3 linked regions of the Homo sapiens genome follow. The protein of the gene in region 3 purifies or fractionates together with the protein of the main gene of each other region. This does not show direct contact. Each region holds a gene or a part of one and is shown on either strand. Other genes may lie near its edges. The genes, in order: USP33, SHCBP1 and ASIC5.

Region 1 (3,653 bases), on a different chromosome or scaffold from region 3:
GCCTCCCAGAGTGCTGGGATTACAGGTGTGAGCCACCATACCCAGCAAGACTGGTTACTCTTTTTATTCTGAAACCTTGAAACCTAGTGTTCTGTTGATTAATTGAGTAGGAATTGCTACTTCTTCAAGGGTCTAGAATCCAAATACCTGACCCCCTTTTTTGGTCTCAGTTTATATGGTTGATTCTTTGAATCCCAATGTCGAATATCACATCCATCATTATTAAATTTCGTCCTGTTAATTTTAGCTAATTTTTTTTATTTTTTATTTTTTGAGATGGAGTTTTGCTCTTGTCACCCAGACTGGAGTGCAGTGGCATGATCTTGGCTCACTTCGACCTCCTCTTCGCGGGTTCCAGCAATTCCCATGCCTCAGCCTCCCAGCTAGCTAGGACTACAGACGCACACCACCACGCCCTGCTAATTTTTTGTGTTTTTAGTAGAGACAGGGTTTCACCATGTTGGCTAGGCTGGTAATGAACTCCTGACCTCAGGTGATCCACCGGCCTCGGCCTCGCAAAGTGCTGGGATTACAGGTGTGAGCCACCACGCCCAGCCAATTTTAGCTTATTTTAAAAAATAGTTTAATTTTTCTTTAAAAACTTATTTTTATAATTTTAAGTTTATATTTTACTAGCCTGCCTTCTGTAGCTTTATCCAGGTTATTGTTAAAAATATTGAGCAGTTCTGACACCTGCTAGTGAAGACCTCCTGCATTCATATTAATCTTATATGTAACTATTAAATAGCTACCAATCCTTCTGACATAATTTTTTTTCTCTGTAATGTGAATCTGACTTTTTATGAAGAGCTTTACTTTTTGGAATAGACTAGGCAATGGAATTCAGGCAGTTTCTCAATATTAAAAGCTCCTTAGGTTACCAACTATGTCCTGATGTGTAATTATTATATTAAGGCCAGGCGCAGTGGCTCACTCCTGTAATCCCAGCACTTTGGGAGGCCGAGGTGGGTGGATCACTTGAGGCCAGAAGTTTGAGACCAGTCTGGGTAACACGGTGAAACTCCGTCTCTACTAAAAATACAAAAATTTAGCTGGATGTGGTGACACATGCTTGTAATCCCAGCTACTCAAGTGACTGAGGCATGAGAATTGCTTGAACCTGGGAGGGAGAAGTTGCAAGTGAGCCGAGATTGCGCCACTGCACTCCAGCCTGGGCGACAGAGTGAAATTCTGTCTCAAAAAAAAAAAAAATTGTACTAATAACATGGTTCCCTATACTTTTCCTAATATTAAAATTTGAATAGCTGATTGATTATCTTCTATTAGGATAAGGGGTCAGAATTTCAACCTGGAATTTGGAGATTGTACTACGAAAATATTCTCCCCTTAAAAGTAATATCTTCGGGCGCGGCGCGGTGGCTCAAGCCTGTAATCCCAGCACTTTGGGAGGCCGAGGTGGGCGGATCACGAGGTCAAGAGATCGAGACCATCCTGGCTAACACAGTGAAACCCCATCTCTACTGGAAATACAAAAAATTAGCTGGGTGTGATGGCGGGTGCCTGTAGTCCCAGCTACTCAGGAGGCTGAGGCAGGAGAATGGCGTGAACCCGGGAGGTGGAGCTTGCAGTGAGCTGAGATCGCGCCACTGCACTCAAGCCTGGGCGACAGAGCAAGACTCCGTCTCAAAAAAAAAAAGGTAATATCTTCAGAAGCAGTTTTGTTTTGTTTTTGAGACAAGGCCTAGCTCTGTCACTCAGGCGGGAGTGCAGTGGTGCAATCACAGCTCACTGCATGCAACTTCTGCCTCCTGGGCTCAGGTGATCCTCCCACCTCAGCCTCCTGAATAGCTGGGACTGCAGGGGCATGCCACCAGGCCTGGGTAATTTTTGTATTTTTTTGGGGTAGAGACAGGGTATTGCCGTGTTGCCCAGGCTGGTCTTGAACTCCTGGGTTCAAGCAGTCCTCCCGCCTCAGTCTCCTAAAGTGCTGGGATTACAGGTGCGAGCCACCATGCCCAGCCCAGAAGCAGTTTTGCATTTACTTTAATGCAGATGAGCAATTTAGCCACCGGAGCTGTACATCATAGAGCGTGAGTGCAGTCGTTTTCATCTGGAAAAATTTTCAGTTGGTGTTGCTGCCATCATTATTGGTGAGAAAACTTCCAGTAGTCCAGTTAGTGTGGCAGATAGAGGAAAAAGCTGCCAGATACAAGATTACAAAGATAAGGACAAACAGATAAAATCTTGTGCACTCTTTGTGATTTCCAACTTGTAAGTCACAAGCTTCTACAGGAGTCTTAGTTTTGCAAAATCTACTTCTGTGGATTGGACAATAGCATTTCCATATACAACCATTTTCTGTTTTTTTCTAATGTCTAATACTCATCTCCTGTGATTAAATTATCAGACAAGAATGGAAGCATACATGCCTTCTTTCTTTTGGTGTACAATTTGAGAAGAAATTGAAGTAGCTAAGAACTCCCATTGTCTTACCCTACTATATCTGAATGCCCTACCCTCAATAAACATTTGTCAAATAAAGGAATAAAAGAATGATTTTATTACCTTAGTAAATAAACTGAGTAAAACTAGGCAAAGAAAATACTAAGGGTTTTCTATTTTGATAGCATTGTATTATACGGGATACTAAATATCCTTGGGACAAATTGTTAGCCTTTGTTTACATGCACTAATTCTTTTCCTTTTTCTTTCTTTCTTTCTTTCTTTCTTTCTTTCTTTCTTTCTTTCTTTCTTTCTTTCTTTCTTTTTTAAGTCAGGGTCTTGCTGTGTTGCACAGGCTGGAGTGCAGTGGTGCAATCTTGGCTCACTGCAACCTTTGCCTCCTGGGCTCAAGGGATTCTCCTGCCTCAGTGGAACTACAGGTGTGCACCACCACGCTGGGCTGATTTTTCTATTTTCTGTAGAGAGATGGGGTTTCACCATGTTGCCCAGGCTGGTCTTGAACTCGTCAGCTCAAATGATCTTCCCGCCTTGGCCTCCCAAAGTGCTGGGATTACAGACCTGAGCTGTCATGCGTGGCTGCCCAGCCAATTCTTTCTTTCTTTCTTTTTTTGGAGATGGAGCCTTGCTCTGTTGCCCAGGCTGGTGTGCAGTGGCGTGATCACGGCTCACTGCAACCTCTGCCTCCTGGGTTCAAGTGATTCTCCTGCTTCAGCCTCCCGAGTAGCTGGGATTACAGGCACCCACCACTATGCACGGCTAATTTTTGTATTTTTAGTAAAGAAGGGGTTTTGCCATGTTGGCCAGGCTGGTCTCAGACTCCTGAACTCAGGTGATCCACCTACTTCGGCCTCCCAAAATTCTGGAATTACAGTCATCGCACCTGGCCCTGCCCAGCCAATTCTTATTAAATTGTTTAGATAATGCAAAATTAATAGCAGAGCAGAGAGAATGTATTTATGTTTTATTCTTTTTTTCATCTCAGCTATCAGCAGAGAGAATTTATTTTAATCTTATTTTTTGCTTGAGATTTTAGAAAAAAATATTTATCTTGGAAGTTTCTTTTCAATCCTCTGATCCCATTTCTTTCCTCTGAGGCAAAATAGTATTGCCTAAAAAGCAGTGAGAAGAACATCTACATTTCATTGGCAAATGCAGAATTTTTACTTTAGAGGAAAATACATAGCTTAAATACTTTCAGTAAACAAAGCGCTCAGTACTCATCTTTAGGG
Region 2 (3,653 bases), on a different chromosome or scaffold from region 3:
GATTTTTTCTTGTAAATTTGTTTAAGTTCTTTGTAGATTCTGGATATTAGCCCTCTGTCAGATGGGTAGATTGTAAAAATTTTCTTGCATTCTGTAGGTTGCCTGTTCACTCTGATGGTAGTTTGTTCTGCTGTGCAGAAGCTCTTTAGTTTAACTAGATCCCATTTGTCAATTTTGGCTTTTGTTGCCATTGCTTTTGGTGTTTTAGTCATGAAGTCCTGCCATGCGTATGTCCTGAATGGTATTGCCTAGATTTTCTTCTAGGGTTTTAATGGTTTTAGGTCTAACATTTAAGTCTTTAATCCATCTTGAATTAATTTTTGTAAGGTGTAAGGAAGGGATCCAGTTTCAGCTTTCTACATATGACTAGCCAGTTTTCCCAGCACCATTTATTAAATAGGGAATCCTTTCCCCATTTCTTGTTTTTGTCAGGTTTGTCAAAGATCAGATGGTTGTAGATGTGTGGTATTATTTCTGAGGGCTCTGTTCTGTTCCATTGGTCTATATCTCTGTTTTGGTACCAGTACCATGCTGTTTTGGTTACTGTAGTCTTGTAGTATAGTTTGAAGTCAGGTAGCGTGATGCCTCCAGCTTTGTTCTTTTGGCTTAGGATTGTCTTGGCGATGTGGGCTCTTTTTTGGTTCCATATGAACTTTAAAGTAGTTTTTCCAATTCTGTGAAGAAAGTCCTTGGTAGCTTGATGGGGATGGCATTGAATCTATAAATTACCTTGGGCAGTATGGCCATTTTCATGATATTGATTCTTCCTATCCATGAGCATGGAATGTTCTTCCATTTGTGTCCTCTTTTATTTCATTGAGCAGTGGTTTGTAGTTCTCCTTGAAGAGGTCCTTCACATCCCTTATAAGTTGGATTCCTAAGTATTTTATTCTCTTTGAAGCAATTTTGAATGGGAGTTCACTTATGATTTGACTCTCTGTTTATCTGTTATTGGTGTATAGGAATGCTTGTGATTTTTGCACATTGATTTTGTATCCTGAGACTTTGCTGAAGTTGCTTATCAGCTTAAGGAGATATTGGGCTGAGACGATGGGGTTTTCTAGATATGCAATCATGTCATCTGCAAACAGGGACAATTTGACTTCCTCTTTTCCTAATTCAATACCCTTTATTTCTTTCTCCTGCCTGATTGCCCTGGCCAGAACTTCCAACACTATGTTGAATAGGAGTGGTGAGAGAGGGCATCCCTGTCTTGTGTGACAGTTTTCAAAGGGAATGCTTCCAGTTTTTGCCCATTGATTATGATATTGGCTGTGGGTTTGTCATAAACAGCTCTTATTATTTTGAGATACATCCCATCAATACCTAGTTTATTGAGAGTTTTTAGCATGAGACGCTGTTGAATTTTGTTGAAGGCCTTTTCTGCATCTATTGAGATAATCATGTGGTTTTTGTCTTTGGTTCTGTTTATATGATGGATTACGTTTATTGATTTGCATATGTTGAACCAGCCTTGCATCCCAGGGATGAAGCCAACTTGATCATGGTGGATAAGCTTTTTGATGTGCTGCTGGATTCGGTTTGCCAGTATTTTATTGAGGATTTTTGCATCGATGTTCATCAGGCATATTGGTCTAAATTCTCTTTTTTTGTTGTGTCTCTGCCAGGCTTTGGTATCAGGATGATGCTGGCCTCATAAAATGAGTTAGGGAGGATTCCCTCTTTTTCTATTGATTGGAATAGTTTCAGAAGGAATGGTACCAGCTCCTCTTTGTACCTCTGGTAGAATTCGGCTGTGAATCCGTCTGGTCCTAGACTTTTTTTGATTGGTAGGCTATTAAATATTGCCTCAATTTCCGAACCTGTTACTGGTCTATTCAGAGATTCAACTTCTTCCTGGTTTAGTCTTGGGAGGGTGTATGTGTTGAGGAATTTATCCATTTCTTCTAGATTTTCTAGTTTATTTGCATAGAGGTGTTTATAGTGTTCTCTGATGGTAGTTTGTATTTCTGTGGGATTGGTGGTGATATCCCCTTTATTAGTTTTTATTGCATCTATTTGATTCTTCTCTCTTTTTTCTTCTTTATTAGTCTTGCTAGTGGTCTGTCAATTTTGTTAATCTTTTCAGAAAACCAACTCCTGGATTCATTGATTTTTTGAAGGGTTTTTTGTGTCTCTATTTCCTTCAGTTCTTCTCTGATCTTAGTGATTTCTTGCCTTCTGCTAGCTTTGGAATGTGCTTTCTCTTGCTTCTCTAGTTCTTTTAATTGTGATGTTAGGGTGTCAATTTTAGATCTTTCCTGCTTTCTCTTGTGGGCATTTAGTGCTATAAATTTCCTTCTACACACTGCTTTAAATGTGTCCCAGAGATTCTGGTATGTTGTGTCTTTGTTCTCGTTGGTTTCAAAGAACATCTTTGTTTGTGCCTTCATTTCGTTATGTACCCAGTTGTCATTCAGGAGCAGGTTGTTCAGTGTCCATGTAGTGGAGCAGTTTTGTTTTGAGTGAGTTTCTTAATCCTCAGTTCTAGTTTGATTGCACTGTGGTCTGAGAGACAGTTTGTTATAATTTCTGTTCTTTTATATTTGCTGAGGAGTGCTTTACTTCCAACTATGTGGTCAATTTTGGAATAAGTGTGATGTGGTGCTGTGAAGAATGTATATTTTGTTGATTTGGGGTGGAGAGTTCTGTAGATGTCTATTAGGTCCGCTTGGTGCAGAGCTGAGTTCAATTCCTGGGTATCCTTGTTAACTTTCTGTCTTGTTGATCTGTCTAATGTTGACAGTGGGGTGTTAAAGTCTCCCATTATTATTGTGTGGGAGTCTAAGTCTCTTTGTAGGTCTCTAAGGGCATGCTTTATGAATCCGGTGCTCCTGTATTGGGTGCATATATATTTAGGATAGTTATATGCACCCATATATATTTAGGATAGTTAGCTCTTGTTGAATAGTCTTTTTCTATTGTTTTAATTTCAACTTGCCTATATTCTGTTTGAAGTGAGTTGTAGACAGCATATAGTTGAGTCATGTTTTTAATCCACTTTGGCAATCTTTGTCTTTTAATTGTATTTAGACCACTTACATTTAATTATTGATATTAAATCTTTAGTTTATTTCGTGTTTTCTGTTTGTTATGCTTTTCATTTCTTGATTTGCTTTTTTTCTGCCATCCTGTGGATAGCTGAACATTTTTCAGAATTTCATTTGTTTTTGAGAATATCTCTTCATATAACTTTTTTAGTGGTCGCCCTAGGTTGTATATTATATGTACATAACAGTTTACTGGTGTCACCAGTTCAAGTAAAGTATAGAAACCTTGCCTCCTTTTATTATTCTCTACCATCTCCTTTTTATAATTGTCTTAAACATTTGCCTTATGTACGTACATCTAGAACCATATTAGAGAATTTTATGATTTTTGTTTCAAATGTCAAACATAATTTAGAACACTCAAGAGAAGGAAAGCTTATTGTATTTACCTATATCTTTGCTTACTGTGTTCTTTTTTTTTCTTTTTGATGTTCCAGGATCTTCTCTTTTATCATTTCTTTTTTGTTTAGATAACTTCCTTTAGTCATTCTATGAAGATACGTCTGCTGGTGACAAATTTTCCTATTTTTCCTTCTTCTTAGAATATCTTGATTTCCTCCTCATTCCTGAAGAATATTTTCACTGGTTATAGGATTCTGGGTT
Region 3 (4,266 bases):
TCAGTCATCCAAGAAAGATTATACTAGCAAATTTATAGGAACTAATTATTTTTAAAAAAGTAATTTTTACCTGTTCAAATTACAAAATGTCACAGCTGGGAACTCCATCTTTTCCACATATTGAACCTCAATGGACGTTGTGGTTGGCCATGTGAAGTAGTTGAGCAAGCGAATGTAGATCTGCCATGTCACAAGTGAGACTGAGCCCAGAACCACCACCAACCAGAGCACCCTGCGAATTTTGCTCCGGTTCTGAACAATATTGTGTATCCCATGAAAGGAAGTGGAGATGGCAAAGTCATGGTCAAACTTCTTTCGCTCAGTGGGAGATGGCAGTGGTTTCTTTGAAAGGCAAAGCTTTATCTTTTCTAAGAGTCCTTAAGGTTTTGCCCATAAAATGATTAAACAAAAAAAAGTAATTAGGAAACCTTAATGCTATCCGTAAAAAAACACAACTCACATAATTTAAAGAGGTGACTCTTTTTACTTGTAATTCATAGAAACTAAAAATTCATCTTTTGTTGCATGATTTATTCAGGAATCAAGAAGTGTAAGTGTTGGCTACATGGGTTTATTGAGAAGATGCTAATGCTATTCATAGAACGGCTATTATTAATGTAAATGTGTTAGTGGTATGGTATTAATAGGTGACTTCCAGCTTTAAAACCAAGTTGGTTACAACAATTCATAAACTTTAAATATTAACTCTTATTTTTAAAATGCTCTTTCTCTCTGAAAGTCCTTTAGAAGTCATGAACAAAATGAGGCTGATTCCTCTGACAGTCCTAAGTATGGCTAAAAGTAATCTGTTCTTAACTAATGTTTGTCCTATGGTGGTATAATTTATGGTAAATGTAACTTTCATTCTCGTATTCTTTAATGTACAACTATTTTATATTTTGTTGGTTGTTTAGTCAGAATGTTCAGTGTTCAGTTGTAGTATTAGTTAAGTAATCTATTTTCTACCTCTTCATGGAATTAATTCATCATTTCAAGTCTATCAGGAATCAATCAATAATATTTATTGATATTCATTGGTAAGAACCAGGGAAGGTAACACTAAATTTTTTTGGCAATATATGATATGTTGACAATTTTATTTTGGTTAAATTTCTTTCCATTTGTTCATAGGAGAAGAGGCAATGAATCCCTTTGTGGAGGGAAAGGTTCAATATAGTTAAGAGCATGAGATGGGCTTCACAATGGAAGATCAGGCTTCCGGTCCATTCCTCGCCTCTTATAACCTGCACAACTTTAGCCAAGTTTCTTAGTCTTATACCTTTTCTGTCAAATGGCAGCAATGGTATCTGCCTTATGAATTTGTTGTATTAAATTTGTTGATAATACCTGGAGAGAGCTTAGCACATTATCTAGATCATAATAAGTACTCAAGGGTATTAGCTATTTTTATTATTCTGCTAATGTAGTGGTGATGTGGTAAATAGTAAAATATTCAGGAATTTTAAAAAGCTTTAAAAGTATCTTAAAAAATTAGTTCTTAATGGCTTTATATATGTTCATAATTAGGTGAATTAACTTTTATATCCTTTGCCAAAATAATACTTTTGGAATATAGGTATTCAACTATCCAGCATTAATTTACTTACAAGATGTTTCAAGCTTCATTTACTATTAAATCATTATTTAATACAACATAAATAACCAATCAATTAGCTAAGCTTTTTATTCAGTTATAGGACATATGCTATAAAAAGGTGTCTATTAACATTTTCTAAGGGAGTCCATTTCATTCACTTACAAATTATATTATTATTATTTTACAAATTATATTATGATTATTATTCACTAAGCAGGATAGCTTGTATTAATATGATTAGCTTGAAGTTGGACTAAAATCTTAGAATAGCACCGTTATTAATGTTGTTTTTAGTATAAAATTAATGAACATGTATCAAGTAACTGGCATAATCCCAGAGAAAAATCAGAAACAAGAAAAAAGTTATTGTTACTAATTAGCAAAATATATTTAAATATGCTCTTTTGTGTATTCTTTAGTCATGACTTGCAAACATATGCGAAGAATTTACTCTGATAAAAGAACAACTCAGTCTCTGGATAACTTGTACCATTCCTAGAATAGGGATCAAAACTATTAGAAGGGGAAGACTAATGTAGTAACTAGTTACTGACAAGCAAAGTGTGGCTAGTTGCAAGCATTACCCCAAAACATTTAACTTTCAAGTTTGCCTGTCAAAAATCAGCCCATTTAATATACATCTAATCCTTGACAATTGGTTTGGCCTTTCTGGAGTAATACCAACTATTTTCTAGTGTTTTAATAGAGTTTTTTTTATTATTGTTTTAGGTAAATGTATGACTGTCAGGAAGATTAAAATTGGTTGAATAAATGGCCCACTAGTTTGCAAAGCAGAAACTTCTTACTCTCCTGACTGGAGTATATACAGTGTCATTATGACAACTAGACCTTGCATTGAGTGCTGATCAACATAGAAGCATTTTGAGGAACATCAAATCAGCTTTGTTACATTTAAAAAATAAAACCTGCAGGCCCAGGATAAATAGAAACCAAAAGAAATAAAACAAAACAAAGAAACAAAATCAGATTCTGGCATATAGTAATATTTTAAAACTATTTTTGAGTCCCTCATACAAATAACTTTTTTTCTAAGTAAAACTATTCATTTTTAAAACTTATATTACTTATATTGTGTTCAAGTAACATTGGAAATCAAATTTCCCAAATGAAGAAAAAAAATCTCTCTTTTCTTACTTCTGGCCTCTAGAAATGAAAAATATTACTGCTCTGAGGAGTTCACTCTTTACTCACCGTTCTCAGCATATACTTTTGATTTTTCTGTCTGCTCCATTTGTGATTTCAGTTAAGCAAGAGTCCTCAGGGTAACCCAATTTTCATCAATAACAGTATTCATTTTGTGCCCTTTATATAAAATACAGCAGTTGAGGTTGTAAAACATGGAAGCAATTTAAATGTTTGTGTTGCTATGTTTTGCCTCATAAAGCACATAATCTGAAAACCAAAAATGTTGACAGAACCAGGTATGGGCATTTATGGACTGATGAGAAGCTAACCCAGAGTGATTTCATGAGTGAAAAGCAAAAAGTATCATTAGGAAACCATTTTCTCACAGTTAAAGGGACACTTCCTATCAAATATGTGTAGTTAAGCAGCAGCCCCTGACCAGGCTAGTTGACACTCCAATGACTCACCCGGGAACGTCTTCTTAGCTTTTCTTTTTACCTTTGTCTTTATTCAACTTCAAATCAAAACGCAGCTGGAATAAATTTTTTTTTATGGGAAAGGTGTCTTCCCTTGTCGGTGTTTCTTTCTTAGTAACAGAAGCTGTTTCTAACAGAAATAATAGCCAATAAACATGACAAAATAAAACACCAAAAAATATCTGCTCAAGAATAAATGATTACTGAAAACAAACAACTTACTAAAACATAAAGTCTGATTATTTTTTATATGAACACTTTTGGAAAATTGTTAGAATTTATTATATTGAATAATAAATGGAAGAATGTGCATTATTGTGCATAAAGGGCATCATCTCTTGACAGAATTCAGTGATTGCATGTATCTGTACCTAATAGAGCTTGTTAGACTCACCATTTTATAAGCATCTCACCATTAATCATCAGTATGATTACGTATATTTTGCATATATTTGGAAACTTGTAAACTCAGCACTATAAGTTCAAACTAGTCTTATACGGAGGCAAACTAATTCCAAGTGATGTAAGTAAGGAATCTGGCTAGAGGTCCTCAGTTATCACAGTAAAGATTTCAGGAATAGGATAAATTTCATGATATATGAATTTCTCCATTAAAGAGCTCTTCTTTAGGGTTAAATTATGTATTATTCTGTTCTCACACTGCTGATAAAGACATATTCAAGACTGGGTAATTTAGAAAGAGGTTTAATTGACTCACAGTTTCACATAGCTGGGAAGACCACGCAATCATGGTGGAAGGTGAAAGAGGAGCAAAGTTACATCTAACATGGAGGCAGGCAAGAGAGTTTGTGTAGGGGAACTTCCCTTCATAAAACTATCAGATCTCTTGAGACTGTTTCACTCTCATGAGAACAGCATGGGAAAGACCCGCCTCCATGATTCAATTAACTCTCACAGGGTCCCTCCCACAGAACATGGGAATTATGGAAGCTATAATTAAAGATGAGATTTGGGTGGGGACACAGTCAAATCATTTCATTCTGCCCCTAGCCCCTGCCAAATCTCATGTCTTCACATTGTTCAAAG

The links.
Region 1: the proteins of ASIC5 (region 3) and USP33 purify together in Homo sapiens (affinity purification with mass spectrometry; one large-scale study listed by BioGRID and IntAct). This does not show direct contact.
Region 2: the proteins of ASIC5 (region 3) and SHCBP1 purify together in Homo sapiens (affinity purification with mass spectrometry; one large-scale study listed by BioGRID and IntAct). This does not show direct contact.

The regions. Positions count from the first base shown.
Region 1 is NC_000001.11:77,749,700-77,753,352, reverse strand, and holds part of USP33 (ubiquitin carboxyl-terminal hydrolase 33), read left to right. Parts: intron 1-3,653. UniProt on the Homo sapiens protein: Deubiquitinating enzyme involved in various processes such as centrosome duplication, cellular migration and beta-2 adrenergic receptor/ADRB2 recycling.
Region 2 is NC_000016.10:46,586,826-46,590,478, reverse strand, and holds part of SHCBP1 (SHC SH2 domain-binding protein 1), read left to right. Parts: intron 1-3,653. UniProt on the Homo sapiens protein: May play a role in signaling pathways governing cellular proliferation, cell growth and differentiation. May be a component of a novel signaling pathway downstream of Shc. Acts as a positive regulator of FGF signaling in neural progenitor cells.
Region 3 is NC_000004.12:155,863,378-155,867,643, forward strand, and holds the start of ASIC5 (bile acid-sensitive ion channel), read right to left. Parts: upstream 2,901-4,266; 5' UTR 2,850-2,900; coding exon 2,810-2,849; exon of another isoform or gene 378-2,809; coding exon 71-377; exon of another isoform or gene 1-70. UniProt on the Homo sapiens protein: Forms bile acid-gated sodium channels and may play a role in bile acid-dependent absorption and secretion by epithelial cells of the bile ducts. Displays high selectivity for sodium ions but can also permit the permeation of other cations.